Homo sapiens: one gene and its partner. The protein of the gene in region 1 binds, or shares a complex with, the protein of each later gene. Each region holds a gene or a part of one and is shown on either strand. Other genes may lie near its edges. A codon is read from its position in the direction of its gene.

Region 1 (7,960 bases):
TGGGTTCGGTCAGTCCCCTAATAGTTTGTTTTCAGTGTATTGAGACCAGGAGAATTGATTTACTTCAGACCTATTTTTTGAAACTCCCTGTTGGTCTGGTGTCATGCGTTTAGAGAGACTCTGAACTTCGTTTTCTGTTTTCCTTAGATAATGATAGCACTTCATGAGCACCATATGTGAAGCACACATACGTTCTGTCTGACTCTCAGAACAGTGCCACATTGGCATTGTCATCATTTACAGATGACATCTGAGAGCTAGGGTGACTTGCCCAAGCCCAAGCAGCTGGTAGCAGAGTTGGGATCTTAACCCTCACCACACCGGTGTTTTCAAGAGAGAACTTGGTCGTGGAGAACTGGAGAACAGATACTGCCTAAGTTACATTTAGTTTTAGACTAATTTAATACTCCATTTAAGAAACAAACAGAACAGCTGTGCAGTTAGGAAAGTGGAGGGGATTTGAATGAGGAGGAGGCGGGTTAGAGTTAGAACCGTCTTTGCTGAACAAGTAGTGTGTTTGCAGAAAGGGAAGTTGAAGTTACGTTGTCCTAAAATACAGCAAGGAAGAGGAGGTGCTTAATACCACGGAAAAAAGTCTGTGTCATGTTTCTGTGAGGTTAAAAGTAATTTGATAGTGTATGTCATGCTGCTGACATATTCCATGTGTTTGATATCTTCCCAGCAAAATAATCAGCTCTCATTTTCCCTTACAGAGTCAACTGTTCATTTTATTTCAAAATTGGAGCATGTCGTCATGGAGACAGGTGCTCTCGGTTGCACAATAAACCGACGTTTAGCCAGGTTTGTTTGCCTTTTTTTCATGTAAATTATAAAAACTTCATGTTCTTTTCAAAGACAGTTAATTTCTACATATTAAGCAAGTCATTTTTTCTCTCGTAGTTGTATTTTCCATTTGTGTTCATAAGTGTGTTCTTTTATTTAAATAATAGTGAGGCAGGTGATCGACTTCCAGTGGAAGGTCTGAGACCACCACTCCTTGTTTTTATCATTAGAGAAACTTTAAAAATCAGTTTTTGATGTTTGTGTGTTGGCTGTGCCTGATATTTGCTGCCCTGCCATCTTCCCTACCCCCTCTGATAGACATGGGTCCAGAGGGGGTGGCCGTGCCAGCCTTGGGTTAGCCTCCTCCAGGCACCAGTGGACACGGAGTGGGCTTTCTGCTCTTTGCTGTCTCCAGACAGTAGAGGTGATGGAGCCACCTTCCAAGTTAGCGTGATTGTCACCAGGCCCATCATGCTGCTCGAGCTTCTCTGGCTGCGTCCTCACTTTCACATCCCTAGCTGAGGAAACAGCGAGTCGCATCACGTCATGGAAACATGAAAAATTAAGCTGAAAGGTAGAAAATGGGCCGTAAATTGCTCTTAGCGGGTCTGTTTGGTTAATTGAGGAGTGCCTGTTATCTTGGGCTTAGATCCGCTCTGAGTTCAGTTCAATCAAAAGTTGTGAGTTTTGATAGTTTTATTTTTGGTTAGTTGAAGAAAAGGCAAAGGTTGGTACACTATAAAGGATCACTTACGGATTAAAGGGAGAAGGCACCTCTAATCGGAGCAGAAAACTTGTGCCCACGTTGATGAGAACATTTGAAATTTGAAAATCGATGCCCAAGTCTTTCCAGATGGAGGGCTGGGGAACTCCTTCCAACCCACCCTTGAAGTCTAAATGTGCAGCCTCTGAGCTGTTGAGTAGCTATTATGCGTGGTCCCTGGGAGCTGCCAGGCTCTGCCTTTGAGCTCACATCTGTCTGTATACGTTTTCCTGTAAGCATTTAAGAAAATCTACCACTTTGTGTAAGTGAGCTGGGAGAAGGAAACATGGGTTTTTTCCGGTTGAAGCCCATGGACGACCCCACAGCACACAGTGTTTTTAGAAGGGAAGAGGATGATGGCTTTTCCCTCCATTATGCTAATTACCAAGTGGTTAGTATAATAGCAGTCTGTCTTTTGATAGCTCTGAACATGAGTTTCTTTTTACAAATTTCAAAATCTTGGAGAACTAGCTTTACATTTTCTGTGTATTGCAATTGTTTTTTCTTTAATGTTTTGATTTATGAACCGAATCTCCCCTAACTAAACCAGTGGCCATGGATTGTGGTATAACCAAGCATCTTAAGTGACCACCCAGTTCTTTGATTTTGGGGGGTGTCCCAAGTGTTGGGCTGAGAGAAATCAACTGTTCCCTATTCTAAAAGTTTTCTTTAATCTGGCTGGAGGCACTTTCTTTATGTTTTTCTGGATCATAGATTACCTGAGAATGTGAAATGTGAAGTTAATTTAGGCATTCCAGGTCAGTGCTGGGGAGAGCCCATTGGAGCTCGATGGGGTCAGTAGTATGTGTCAGCTTAAGCATCCTAGTTTGATGCGTGGGTTTGTTTTGGTTGGTTTTAGGCAATCCTAGCCACCCTTGGCTTTCCCATTAGACTGCATTGCCTCTTTACGTTAAGCTTCCTTCATTAAATAGCCACTGCCAGAATACCTGAGTGAGACCAACTGAATTTTACTGTTGAATAATTGGGCTCAGTTTAGCTTTTCATCAGGGTTGTCATGGTACGGTCATTTCAGTTCAAAGCTGAGTCAAGTCAGCTTTGGGAAGCCTCCCAGGCCTGAGTTCAGTTGACTCAGGGCTGTACTTGGCGGCTTATGGAAGAAACGGGGCCCTGATGCAGGTCTGAGTGGTTCAGTGTGGACAGTTTGTCAGACCTCCCTCTTAGGTGGGGTGGGCTTCCCAGCTGCACACCTTTGACTGAGGAACTCTTCATACAACCACTCCCCTTTAAACAGAGCTAGAAATGGAGCTGGCTGGTTTTATAAAACCACCACTTACAAAACTGCTTCACGTGGATATTGTTGAGACTAAACATTTATTTTTCTAAATCATGCGAGTGATTGCTTTAGCTTGTAAATCTCTAGCATAATTCAGGGTGGGTTTCTTTATAAGCTGCTTACAGTGATATGGACGTTAAGATTCATGTAATATATTAGCCTACTAACTTAAACATGGTTTGTTTTTTCAGACAACTTGATTTTAAGAAGAACGGTACAGTGTAAGGTTTCAAGTCTGCCTGATCCAGTTTAAAGCACAAGGGCTAAAAGGATTTTTTTTCCTTAAAAGAAGGATCGGAAAAGAGCAAATGTTTTAAGCTATTGTATTATGTAAACAGAGATCCCACCAAGAAAGTGTAAATCAGAGCCGGGTGTCCATGACAGTTGACAGACCTGTTTGGTGTGCCTGTTTTGCTAGGAGACCAGAGAACTTGATGTACTGCAGACAGCTGAGTTACGCATTTGGTTTTGAAAAATTATCTTGTGTGAGGAATATGATTATAACGTGAATTTTTCCACATCTTGGTGTCTGCTAGCTTGAAGTACAAGAAAATATTAGTATTCTACTATTTATCTTGCATTAAAACACTTTAACATTGAAAACGTGGGACTAATCAAAACAATACAGTTTCTTCTTGGTTGCTGGCTGACTTGACCCAAGTCACTGCTCAAACTCTGTTTTCATAATATGATGGTTTTGGTGTACTCTTCAGAAGACAAATGTCTGACTTGCGGGAAAAAAACAAACGTTTAGCCATTTGCAAACAAATTGTCTCTTTGCAATTGTCTAATATATGCACAGCAGCCAGTAGAATTCCCCTTTTTATTTTTTTTTCCCCGCAGACCATCTTGATTCAAAACATCTATCGTAATCCCCAAAACAGTGCACAGACGGCTGACGGCTCACACTGTAAGTCCCACAGTTGGAGAAATTTTTTTAAAACAATGGTGTTAAAGAGCCCACTCTTAATTGAGACAAATAATGTTGGCTTCTGAGCTGCTGACATAGAGCTGTTGCAAACAGGACAAGGTGCTGGAACTCCTTGGCGCACACAGCAAGAACTTGATACTTGGCCACGTTCAGGAGGCTTATCCCTTCTAGGGAGGGTCACTGGCCCGGCCACCTCCATTGATTGACATTTGTCATGAGAGCAGGTCCGTCCATGTGAAACGGATTTCAACATTTTGAGCCATTCATTGGTCTTTACAGTGACTGAACCCCTGGCCTTTATTAAGTTCTTTGTGTAAAATTAAAACTCTTAGGAATATTAAGGAATCAATAAGGTAAGTTGCCCAGTAAGTGTGGGTTTTATTTCACCATTATAATTTTTCCTCCAGGAAGTGGAGATTTCATGATATGTAACAATTGTATTTCTCTAATACAGTAATTTTTTCCATCAGTTTATGTAAGCATTATTCTTTCCGAGTTCATTAAAAATTTTCTGCCACATCTAAGAACATTTTGGTGCTAGCCTGGCAAACTATTTGTGCTTTTACCTGAATTGGAATTTTGAAAAGGAGAGTTTTCACGTTCTGTAAGCAGAAGTACAAGATGGGCATATCATGAGACCTCCGTTACACCGCAGTGTTAGGGATTCAAGGCAGCCGCCAACTGAGAAAACGCCTCTGCTTCTCCAGAAAATAACTTGCTCTCTTTTCAGCACTGAATCTCAACTGAAGCACTTGCCAGAGGCAGCCGGTTAAGTGTTTACCTTTAATTTTCCATAATATAAAGTTGTTGCGTTTTGTATTTCAGACCATTGCCCTCTTGAACATTTACCGTAACCCTCAAAACTCTTCCCAGTCTGCTGACGGTTTGCGCTGTAAGTTCATACAAGTTCCTTCCCCGGTTCCCTGGGCTTGCGTGTCAGAGCTCAGTGTCCACTCCATCTGGTCTGCCGTGCTAGTGTCAAGGACCGCGTTTCACTAGAGGTGGCAAGGAGCTTTCGTCCCACTGACCCCATGGAAACCTCTTTTGGAGATTTGAACTCCCACCGTGTGTTAAAAGGGAAAAAGTAACTGGAAAGGGTGCCCTTTAAAACAGTCTAGAGCTGGGCCGGGCGCGGTGGCTCACGCCTGTAATCCCAGCACTTTGGGAGGCCGAGGCGGGTGGATCATGAGGTCAGGAGTTCAAGACCAATCTGGCCAACATGGTGAAACCCCATCTCTACTAAAGATACAAAAATTAGCTGGGCGTGGTGGCAGATGCCTGCAATCCCAGCTTCTAGGGAGGCTGAGGCAGAGAATCGCTTGAACCCGGGAGGCGGAGGTTGCAGTGAACTGAGATCGTGCCGCTGCACTCCAGCCTGGGCGACAGAGTGAGACTCCGTCTCCAAAAAAAAAAAAAAAAACAGTCTGGAGCTGCTGCTGCCCCTTCTTCCTTTACTTTGGCCGTCATCCTAGAGGGAATGTACTGGAATTAAACGTCGAGTCATATTCTTCCCTCTTAGAGCAACAAAATTTGAATGTTTCTCTCACTTTCTGGAATTTTTAAAAAGCAAACTTTTTAAGTTATTTTTTCAGATTTTATTTCTCATTAGCCTTTTTTCCTTGAACTCCATTTTGGAGTGCACCCTGTAGTTGTAAGAGCATTGTGCTGAGAGCGTTCCCCAAATGAGGGTCTGCAGCTTGCACTGACCCCTGAGTTCCTCACCCACCAGCCCCGTGCCGACCCGTCTAACCCGTGTGGGGGTGCTCCACTCAAATAGGCCCTTGGCAGAAAAGATTGTCCGTTCTGTCCACACACTGCCTGGATACAGTCTCCAGCTCTAGGAGATGGAATTGGTTTGCTCCATTTAGAAATAGATCAAAACTGGGCATTCAGTAGATGGTACCAATATCTTCCTGTACTGGGAAATACTAAATTTAGATTGTGAATATTTACCTAATGATAATTTTTAGAGAAGGAGATATCATAGATGAGTATGATTGGGAAGTTCAGAAAACTAAAATTTGATTTTTACAGCCATCCAACTATAGAATCATTAGAATTTAGTCATTTATGGATAAATTAAAATGAACACCTGGACTCTTGTTAAAATCAGAAAGTCCAAACCAAAGATAGGCACTTCCCATTCACCATTCTGTTTTAAAGCAGTAAAAATTGAGGTGCCCTTGGATATCCACAAGCCTAAATTGAGTACACCCTTGAACCAGAGCCCCTCAGTTAATGGGGTGACCGACATGGGGTAGCTGATCCCAGGGGGCATTCCCCTCTCGAGCTGGCCCTGCACTGGGTGGCCTGGGGATTGTGCTTCCTTGCACAGTGGTGCACATTTCTATGTGTGGATGAGATTTTCTTGTCAACTTTTCCTGCCAAGACACTAAATGCTTTTCAGTGCTAATACTGACCTGATAGTAGAGATTTCTTTCCCTGAGTCGGATGGTAGCAGGATTTACTTGGTAACCCTTGGTTTAAAATACCTGTTTTTTTGTTTGTTTGTTTTCTTTTGTTTTTTAAGGAAATAAGATCAATAGGCGGAGGGAAATTGTTTCTATATGCACTTATTAAATAATTTTTGTTAACAACCCTGCCCTGGGATAAAAGTGAATGGAAGTACATGACTGAGTAACAGTAATTAATTCTTTGCCCTGATCGTTTATTTGGGGACTGTATATGCTTTCTTGACTGACAATAGAATGTTGTATTAGTTTTCATTGTGTCTTTATTTGCAGTTCACAGCACTTTTGTTTTGCATATGCTACAAACTAAAAGTTTAGCAATTACGTTATATTCCAATTCTGGAGTCCAGATTGTACAAATTAGATGAAATTCTAATTCGTCATTTTAGGAAGAAATCAATTACCTAAAATTACTGGCTCTTTTCAACATACCCTTTAGTATGTAAAAAAATAAGCTTCAAATGCGTGGGTTAAAGTTAACTATCAATCCCAGTTTAAGAATGATATTTCTGTAAGAAAACTGCTTTATTTTCCAAGTTGTAGTATTTAACATAGGCTGAGTCACAAATAAGTTTTTAATTGTATCTTAATGCAGTTGTCTCTGCCTTTCAAGTCACTTTGATTGAAACATTTTAAGCAGAACAAATATAGCCAATAATTTAAAATAATCACCCCAAAACCATTTCTCAAACCTGCTAAAACTTTGAGCATGTGAATAATTTTCTCCTCTTCACATTCTTCTTATGTGGGAAGGAAGTGAATTTGAAATATTAAAATCTGCCCTTTGGAATAGGCTACTTTGGCCGTTTATAACTTGATTTCTACTCGGGGAGGAAGGTACATTCCCAATAGCTTTCCAATTGGGATATCCTGTGATATGATTGGCAGGCTGTCCGAGTAGTTACACTTAATAAAATTTGGGTTCGAAAGCAGATTCCTGGAAGTTCAAAAATAACTAAAACAGCCCCGGATAGGTTAGAAAGTGAACTTAAATCATTCTCAGAATTAGAAAATAAGAAGTTATTTTTTATCTTCAAAGATAAAAAGGGGGCCGGGCACGGTGGCTCACGCCTGTAATCCCAGCACTTTGGAAAGCCGAGGCAAGTGGATCACGAGGTCGAGAGATTGAGACCATCCTGGCCAACATGGTGGAACCCCGTCTCTACTAAAACTACAAAAATTAGCCAAGATCACGCCATTGCACTCCAGCCTGGAGACAGTGAGACGCCGTCTCAAAAAAAAAAAAAAAAAAGATAAAAAGAGTTTTGAGCAAGCTCAAAGACCCGTGTGCCAGCAGTCAGATGCCCACGTTGGGTGCACAGGCTAAGGCAGCCGGCCCAATCTGGAAACCAGTCAGGCTTTTGCCAGCCCCTAATCTAGCTGATTGGAACATGTTTGTTGATACACCAGCTCTGTGATTTCTCAGGTTTAGAGAACTCTAGAATTTGATAGAGTGGGCCGGGGGCAGTGGCTCATGCCTGTAATCTCAGCACTTTGGGAGGCTGAGGTAAGCAGATCACGTGAGGTCAGGAGGTTGAGACCAGCCTGGCCAACATGGTGAAACCCCGTCTCTACTAAAAATACAAAAATTAGCCAGGCATGGTGGTGCGCGCCTGTAGTCCCACCTACTTGGGAGGCTGAGGAAGGAGAATTGCTTGAACCTAGGAAGTGGAGGTTGCAGTGAGCCAAGATCACGCCACTGCACTCCAGCCTGGAGT
Region 2 (7,960 bases), on another chromosome or scaffold:
CTACCTGTATCTACAGGGAATTTCCTTGTCTATATCCCAGGCACCCAGCGGGCATCATTGCTTTCTCTGCGTGGGTTCCTGTCTGCCTGCTTGCCTGTTTCAGAGCCTTAGCAGCAGAAAGGGCTCTTGGGGCTCACAGCCTGTCCATCTTATAAGCGAGGAGCTGTGCCCAGTGCCGTGCCTGTGTGCCCGCTGCTCTACACTGCTGGCCTGTCCTGCCGATTGTTCCTCCCAATTTCAGTTTTTGATTTTGGGGTTTTTGGCCTTCAAGGGGACAATTATATTGTCATTAATGGTTCTAGCCAGACCTGAGTGTTCTGCCTGATCCACATTCGAGAGTATGGCCTCGTGCTTAACTCACTGATGTCAGAGTGTTTAAATTCTGGTGTCACCATTTCCTAGCTGTTTGACCTTGGTAATTGTGATCTCTCTATACCTTAGTTTCCTTACCCATTATGTCAGCCCCCAGCAGTGTTTTTCCGAAGCAGTAGTGAGGATTAAGAACAAACAAAACAATTTAGTACAGATTCCGGTTGTAGGAAGCATCTCAATATTTGTTGCTGTTTTTTTCCCTGCTGGGTGCATATTTTTCTGAGTGTTGGTGGTTTTGGAATTGTGATGCTTTTCCAGACATTCACATTGCATCGCAAAAACGTGAGACAAAACACTGTGGGTGAGGCTGAAGTTTAACATCCTCCCTCAGTGCCCTTTCCTCCTCTTGTCCCCAGGGATGATCACTCCAGGAGATGCGTGTTAACATATATAAGCACCTTAACGTGTGCATCTGTTTTGTGTGTGTGCTTCATGGCTAGCTGAGAAATCTGGGTGTCTTTGAATTAAGGAAATGGTGTGGCGGTGCTCATGAACCCCCCCGCCCCCCCATGCTCATGGTTTATCCTCCATCTTGAAGGGCCGGTCTCTCTTCAGGGGTTGAAGGGTCTGGTGAGAGCAGAGGTTTCTGTGGTTTTGCCAGTGAGGCTCCGTTCCTAGTGGCTACCTCAGGCAAATAGAGGGTTGAGGGAGCCTGCTGGAGGCTGGCAGAGATACCCGCCCCTACTCACGCCTTTACAGTCTCTTCAGTACTTGGCTTTGAAGGGAGTGAGGCTGAGAGATTCAAGTGGTTTGGGATTCAAGTCTGGATGGGGCAAGCTCCTCCCCTGACCTGCTGAAGGAGAGGAGGGCCTCTTTCCCCTTCAGTCTGCAGATTCTCCGAGGCCCTTCTCTTCCCCTGGGAAGGGTGCTTGCTTCTGCATTATTCACCGGCTTGGGAAGGGATGGGTTGAGTTTCCCTGCTTCCTGGGGATATCAGATCCTGCCTGGCACCTGACCCCTAGTCCTGATGGTGGGGCTGTGGGTGCCAGCTAGTTGCAGAGGTCTTTCCTGAGGGGTCGCTGGGTCCCTTCAGGAAAACATCATTGGGTCTCTTGATTCCCCAGCCTCTAGCCCTGCCCCTCTCAGGGACGACCCTGGGGTCAGGCCCCTCAGCCCTCGAGGGGGACCAGGAGCCAGCCTCCTCTGTCTTCTCTGGCTCCCCAGCTCCTCCTGAGCATCCTCAGGTATCTTACACCCCGGGGGCATTTCCAGGCCCCGTCCCCCTGGTCCCCTCATGGTCCCTGGACTCGCTTGTGGACCCAGGAGGCCTGTTAATTCCCTTCCTCCATTGAATCCCTTCCCTTTGGGGGTGGCCTCCCTGGGGCTTGGGACATAGCCACCAGCGCGCAGGGTGGGCTGGGCCCGCATCCTTACTCCGCTTATCCCGTGCCCCTCCTCTCACCCTTGCCCAGAGCGGGACAAGGAGAACCGGCATCGGAAGCGCAGCCACAGCCGCTCTCGGAGCCGGGACCGCAAACGCCGGAGCCGGAGCCGCGACCGGCGCAACCGGGACCAGCGGAGCGCCTCCCGGGACAGGCGACGACGCAGGTACTAGGGCTCAGGGATCCCCTGGGCCAGCCTGGGAGTCGGGGGGTCGGTGTTGGCCGGCCTGTGGGTGGCCTGTGTGTGTCTGTGTCTGGGTCCGGGCCCTGTGTGGCTCGTTCGTTCTTTGTGTGGATCTGGGGGAGGGATCTACTGCTTGGTCTGTCTTGGATTCCGATTTTTTCCCCCGTTTCTGGGGTTTCTTTCATTTTCTGTCTTGGTGGTTGCTGGTGGGTTGCTGGGGGCAATAGGCTCTTTATCTGGAGCCTGGGAATTGATTCTGTGTTTTCCTTCACAAGGGGTTGTTCTCTGTCTCTGACTCTGAGGGCCTGTTCCTTCTTTTCGACTCTCTGTGGCTCTCTGTGGGACTCTCTTCGAGGGGGTTGGTCTCTGCCTCCAGTTTCTTTCTTCCCTGCCTCCCAGGAGAAGGGAGCTCTTGGGACCGAGGCAGTATCCACAGCCTGGGCTGACTTTTTGGCCCAGGGGTGTCGGTTTCCACCGCCTCTTCCCTTCTAGGCTCCCCTTTCTGTTCTCTGCCTCCTTAGGTGAGGAAGGGCAGGATAGGCGGAAGTCCTCCTGCCTCCTCCCGGCTCAGTTTCTCCAGCTAGAGACTGGTCCTTCCTGGCCCCTGGCCCCTTTCTCCTTTCCTCACTTCCTCTTTCCTGGGGGTGGGAGTGTTTGGGGGGAAATGGCAGGGCCGAGGGTGGCCTGCTTGCTGCTTGTTGACCTCGGCCCTGCTCCCACCCTGGGGCTCAGTGCCCTTGGGGGGGTGTGGCATGTGGGGAAGACGAGGGTCCCCAGTCACCCCTCCCCATACCTTTCCCTCCCACCCCCCAGCAAACCTTTGACCAGAGGCGCTAAAGAGGAGCACGGTGGACTGATGTGAGCTTCTCTTCCTGCCCCTTCCTCCCTGATGTCCACTCCCTTCACCTTCCTCACGCCCGTGCACCCTGTCCCGCCCATTTCCAGCCCTGGCCCAAGCACTGGGAAGAGTCCACTTACCTTGAAACCAGCACCCCTTTCCCAGGCCCTGCCCCAGACCCTCTCCTTCCCTGGAGAGAGTGGAGCTTACATGGTTGCGGGGAGGGTGAAAGGGTGCCTGGGAGGGGGCTCGCAGGCCCACTGTTGGTCAGACTGAGGTTGCCCTGCCCCGCTCTCCCCTCCCACCTCCCCCAGTCGTTCCCCCCGCCACGAGAAGAAGAAGAAGGTCCGTAAATACTGGGACGTGCCACCCCCAGGCTTTGAGCACATCACCCCAATGCAGTACAAGGCCATGCAAGGTAGGCCCCTGGCCAGGCTGCTCCCAGAGCGGGAGGGTACAGGGGTTGGGATTCTCCGTCAGTCATTCCCCTGCGTGTGTGCTTGGAGGGGGTCAAAGACACAGGTAGAGGGTTGCACACCCCTGGGGGTTCTGGTCTCTGCGCTTTTGAAGCCTCCCTAGAGGAGGAAATGACCAGAGACACCCGTGGTTGACAGGGGAATGAGGCCTCCATCTGGACGCCATTAGGAAGTGAGGCTTCTGAGGAGCAGCAGTTACTGGGTGGGGGCCCCGAGGGTGGAAAGAGGGTTCTGGAAGGTGCTAAGACCGAGAGCCTGTAGGAGCTTTCTGCTGAGGAGGGGAACTCCCAGTGTGTGGTGAGGGGTGGTCACTGAGCATTCCCCTGATGGGGTTTTATCCGGCTTTTATTCCCTTTGAAGCTGCGGGTCAGATTCCAGCCACTGCTCTTCTCCCCACCATGACCCCTGACGGTCTGGCTGTGACCCCAACGCCGGTGCCCGTGGTCGGGAGCCAGATGACCAGACAAGCCCGGCGCCTCTACGTGGGCAACATCCCCTTTGGCATCACTGAGGTACTGCCCTCCCCTGCCCCCTACCCTCTCCCTTGTCCCTCTACCCCGTTCCTCCCCTTCCCTCCATTCCCTTTCCCCAACCTGCACGGGTCAGACTCTGCTCCTGCAAGACCCCCCGGCCCCCTCCCAGACGGACCGATGGAGTTGAGCCAGCCAGGGGCCGGGCTGGGGGTGGCCCTCCCTCCCTCCTCTTCCCCTCTCCCGTCTCCCCTCCCCCCAACCTCCTCCAGCAACCCAGGGATCAAGCACACACATAATGTACCCACGTGTTGTACCTACGTGTCGGAGAGAGACAGAGAGGGAGACTTGGACACACACACACACACACACACACACACACACACACACACACAGACGCACGCTGCCCCTCAGTTTTTTTCTGACACGCCTCTCGTTCTCTGCCGCCTGTCCCCTATCCTCTCCCCCACGTCCCTCCCATGGTCGCTGTTCTTTTATTTTTGATCGCCCCTGACCTCCCCCTTCCCCACCACTCCTTTTCCCTCTCCCCTCTCCCCAACCCCTTCCTGTGGCACCCCCTGAGAATCCCGAGATCAAAGAGTTGTTTCCATTTCTCTTTAAAGTGAAATATTGTGGGGCTGAGATCCCTCGTAGCAACAAAAAGTTTGCTACCATCGTCGAAGGCAAGTAAGGTCCATTCTGACTTTCTCAACCTGCACTTTGCTACATTTGATAAACCAGCCCCCGGACTCCAGGGCCAGATTCCTCCACATCACTCTTTTCTCCTCCCCTCCCGTCCCTGCCCCTCCTCCCTACACTCCTCCTCTCCTGCCCCTGCACTCTTGACTTCCTCCTCCTCGCTCGTCTCTGTCCTGCTCTCCCTTTCTGTCCTTTGCTCGTCTCTGCCCCTGCCTGCCACTTCCTTTCTACTTTCCTGCCACTTTTCTGTCTGTCTCCACTGGGTGGCCCTTCCTGTGTGCTCTGTCTCTTCATCTCTTGTGTTTCGTGTTTTTCTTCATTTTGTGTTGTCATCATGCCCTCTGCCTTTTCTTGAACAATCTTCTCCTTTCCCCTGATTTTTTGGGGCCCCTGTGGCTGTCCCCCAACGCCTGTCCATCGCCTGCCCTTGGCCGTCTCTTGCTACTGCTTCCTCCCCATTTTCTCTCTTGCTTCTGTTCTTACTATTGACTTCTACACCCCCACCCATATTCCACTGTTCCTTCCCCCCCTCCTCCCTCCCCTCATCCCTCTCCCCTTACCCCCAAACCCCTCTGTGTCTCCCTCTCTCACCCTTCCCCTCCTCTCTCCACCTCCCTTCCCCCGCCCCCCCCCTTGTCTCCTATTCCCTCTGCAGGAGGCCATGATGGATTTCTTCAACGCCCAGATGCGCCTGGGGGGGCTGACCCAGGCCCCTGGCAACCCAGTGTTGGCTGTGCAGATTAACCAGGACAAGAATTTTGCCTTTTTGGAGGTGAGCTGGGGGAGTGAGTGAGGTCCAGGAAACGTGTGTGATGTGAGGGCCCAGCCCTTAGGCTGATGTTGTGTGGAGCTGCCTTGTGCTGTTTCCACCAGGCCCTCTGCAGCCTCTTCTCCACCCGGTCGCTGAAGTGAGCCCTGTTATAGCATTACAGATCTGATCCTACTTTCTGCCTTCCATTTGCTTTCTGTGTGACCTGAGAGGCCTGTTTGGCCTCTGTAGACCTCTTTGGCCTTTTCCAGACCATTCCGGCCCAGTCCTCTCTGCACTCTGGCCACACTGACCTTCCCAGAACCTACCATGCTCCTGCCTGCTTGGCTAGAGTTCTTTACACCAGCTAACTGATGTTCCTAACTAGTCTTCTGTTACCCCAGCTAACTGATGTTCCTAACTAGTCTTCTGTGTCTGTGTTTCTCAACTGTCGGGAAAAGGCCTTGGTTTTTGATTTTCGACTCTTGGTGGACTGATAACTCTCATGAAGTATTGTGAAGGTGTGGGCAGTGTTAGCTTACTGCAGAGATTTCTGAGCACTCCCTCTCACTGTCTGAGCACTCCCTCTCACTCTGTCCCTCTCACTCTGTCTTTGCCTCACTGCAGTCCACTTGCAGTTGCATTGCTCCGGAGATGGGCTGAAATGTCCCCCTCACCAGAAAGACTCCAGTACTGTCATCTCCCCGTTCAACTAACCTTTCCCGTAACATCCCTTTTCAGCACTTTGTCCCTCTTCCGTGTCATCACAGCCTGCAATTGTGTGTTTGCCTCTGTGTTTGTGTTGGGTGCCTGGTGTTTTTAATGGTCGAGTGTGAGCTCCTGGCAGCAGGGACATGCGTGTCTGTTGTACTCCCAGTGCCCAGCCTGGGGCCTGGCATGTTGTATTTGTTCACATGAGTGAAAGGAAAGAGGAAATCCCAATCCTGGAACACTAGGGGCTGTACTAGTCCCTGACCCCCATCCCTCACCACTCCTTTCTCTTTCATTCAGTTCCGCTCAGTGGACGAGACTACCCAGGCTATGGCCTTTGATGGCATCATCTTCCAGGGCCAGTCACTAAAGATCCGCAGGCCTCACGACTACCAGCCGCTTCCTGGCATGTCAGAGAACCCCTCCGTCTATGTGCCTGGTGAGTGGGGGATCCATTAAGGGCCCCTTTCTCCCCCAGTCCTGTTCCCATGGCCTGTCCATCCCTTCAGCCCAGCTGGAGTGGCTTAGGAAGTTGTGTAAGTACTGTGGAAGATAGGTGCCTTTTCCCTGCTTCCCCTAAGTCTCTGTGAGTGGGGTGCTCTCCTGCTGGTAGAGAAGGTGCCTAGGGCCGGGAGAATGAGCTGTCACCTGCTGAGGACACACAGCTTGTACGTGGCAGAGCCAGGATCAGACCAAAGGTGCTGGGGAAGCGAGGGGCTTGTGGCCTGGACCTCGTGCCTGCGTTGCGGCTGTGGGACCTTGGAGGGCTCAGTCTGTGCCCGTCGGGGCTGCTGTGTGTCGACGGTTGGCAGCAAAGCTGCTGCTGTGGGGTCTGGCACCTGGGTATTCACTTGTTTTTGTCTCCTAGTGTTTGCCTTGAATCTTGTGTTCTGGGCCATTCCCCATAGCTGTGTTGAACATCATCTGTAATTGGTAGGTAACATAGCAGACCAGGGGTTGGCGACCATGTCACTGTGTGTGAAAGCAGCCGGACGGTGTCTGCGTGCGTGGGCCTGGCTGTGTGCCGGCACACCTCGACACGCGTGGCTGCTGAGGTTGGGCTTTCCTGTGCTTCTCACAGGCCACAGAATGGTCTCCCTTTAGAAAGCTTGCAGGATGTGCAAAACCAGGTGATGGGCCCTGTCAGCCCACAGGCTATAGTTGGCTGACCCTTGTAGCTGATGAATGGGATTTGAGGGAGGGCTTGTCTGATGCCCTGTCAGGGTGCGGCTGTGTCTCAGGCCTGGGACATGGAGGAGGTGGGGTTCTGCTGGCGGGTACTCACTGTTCGAGGAGCCCTTTAGGAACTGAGTCAGCTCTTCAGGGCAGGCGATGTGGAGCCCCAGACGGAGGCACATCTGTGTCAGGCAGGACTTGGGCTAGGTCCCTCACTGGCCTCCAGTGCTTTTCTTTTTGTTGTTGTTGTTGTTTTGAGACAGTCTCGCTCTGTCACCCAGGCTGGAATGCAGTGGCACGATCTCGGCTTACTGCATCCTCCGCCTCTAGGGTTCAAGCAATTCTCCTGCTTCAGCCTCCCGAGCAGCTGGGATTACAGGCACCTGCCACCATGTCTGGCTAATTTTTGTATTTTTAGTAGAGGGTGGGTTTCACCATGTTGGTCAGGTTGGTCTCCGACGCCTGACCTCAAGTGATCCGCTCACCTCAGTCTCCCAGAGTGTTGGGATTACAGGCATGAGCCACTGCGCTCAGCCCAGTGCTTTTCCATCATGGGTTTTGGTAAATTCAGCTAACCTTTTGGAGCCTGTAATATATGTTGACATGCTCCCAATCGACATGGACTTTTTACGTATGGGTGCGTTTCCCCGATCAAGCTGCAGAATGTCTTCCCCACGTCTCTTCCTGGTGAATCCACTGCGTTTTCATTCATTTTAAGTCCCATGAGTGGCCCGCCACTTGCTGGTGCTTAGTGTGTGTCAGGCGCTGTCCTAAGTGCCCTCCATGCACGGCAGTTCTACGACACAGGGATTGGCGCTGTCCTAAGTGCCCTCCATGGACGGCAGTTCTACGACACAGGGATTGGCGCTGTCCTAAGTGCCCTCCATGCACGGCAGTTCTACGA

The links. Proteins that work in one complex are often made in the same cells at the same time.
Region 2: the proteins of U2AF1 (region 1) and U2AF2 are in contact, whole or in part, in a crystal structure (PDB 1JMT), measured with the Homo sapiens proteins. Residues at the interface, in NP_006749.1 of Homo sapiens: His77, Glu80, Phe81, Glu84, Val85, Glu88, Met89, Leu130, Asn131, Asn132, Arg133, Trp134, Phe135, Asn136, Gly137, Gln138, Pro139, Ile140, His141; in NP_009210.1 of Homo sapiens: Lys90 (codon at 3,128), Tyr91 (codon at 3,131), Trp92 (codon at 3,134), Asp93 (codon at 3,137), Val94 (codon at 3,140), Pro95 (codon at 3,143), Pro96 (codon at 3,146), Phe99 (codon at 3,155), Ile102 (codon at 3,164), Thr103 (codon at 3,167), Pro104 (codon at 3,170), Met105 (codon at 3,173), Tyr107 (codon at 3,179), Lys108 (codon at 3,182), Gln111 (codon at 3,191).

Annotation. Positions count from the first base shown.
Region 1 is NC_000021.9:43,097,156-43,105,115, reverse strand, and holds part of U2AF1 (splicing factor U2AF 35 kDa subunit), read left to right. Parts: intron 1-713; coding exon 714-801; intron 802-3,683; coding exon of another isoform or gene 3,684-3,750; intron 3,751-4,596; coding exon 4,597-4,663; intron 4,664-7,960. UniProt on the Homo sapiens protein: Plays a critical role in both constitutive and enhancer-dependent splicing by mediating protein-protein interactions and protein-RNA interactions required for accurate 3'-splice site selection. Recruits U2 snRNP to the branch point.
Region 2 is NC_000019.10:55,657,426-55,665,385, forward strand, and holds part of U2AF2 (splicing factor U2AF 65 kDa subunit), read left to right. Parts: intron 1-1,436; exon of another isoform or gene 1,437-1,556; intron 1,557-1,784; coding exon 1,785-1,920; intron 1,921-2,751; coding exon 2,752-2,796; intron 2,797-3,090; coding exon 3,091-3,194; intron 3,195-3,612; coding exon 3,613-3,764; intron 3,765-4,345; exon of another isoform or gene 4,346-4,405; intron 4,406-5,076; coding exon 5,077-5,193; intron 5,194-6,180; coding exon 6,181-6,319; intron 6,320-7,960. UniProt on the Homo sapiens protein: Plays a role in pre-mRNA splicing and 3'-end processing. By recruiting PRPF19 and the PRP19C/Prp19 complex/NTC/Nineteen complex to the RNA polymerase II C-terminal domain (CTD), and thereby pre-mRNA, may couple transcription to splicing.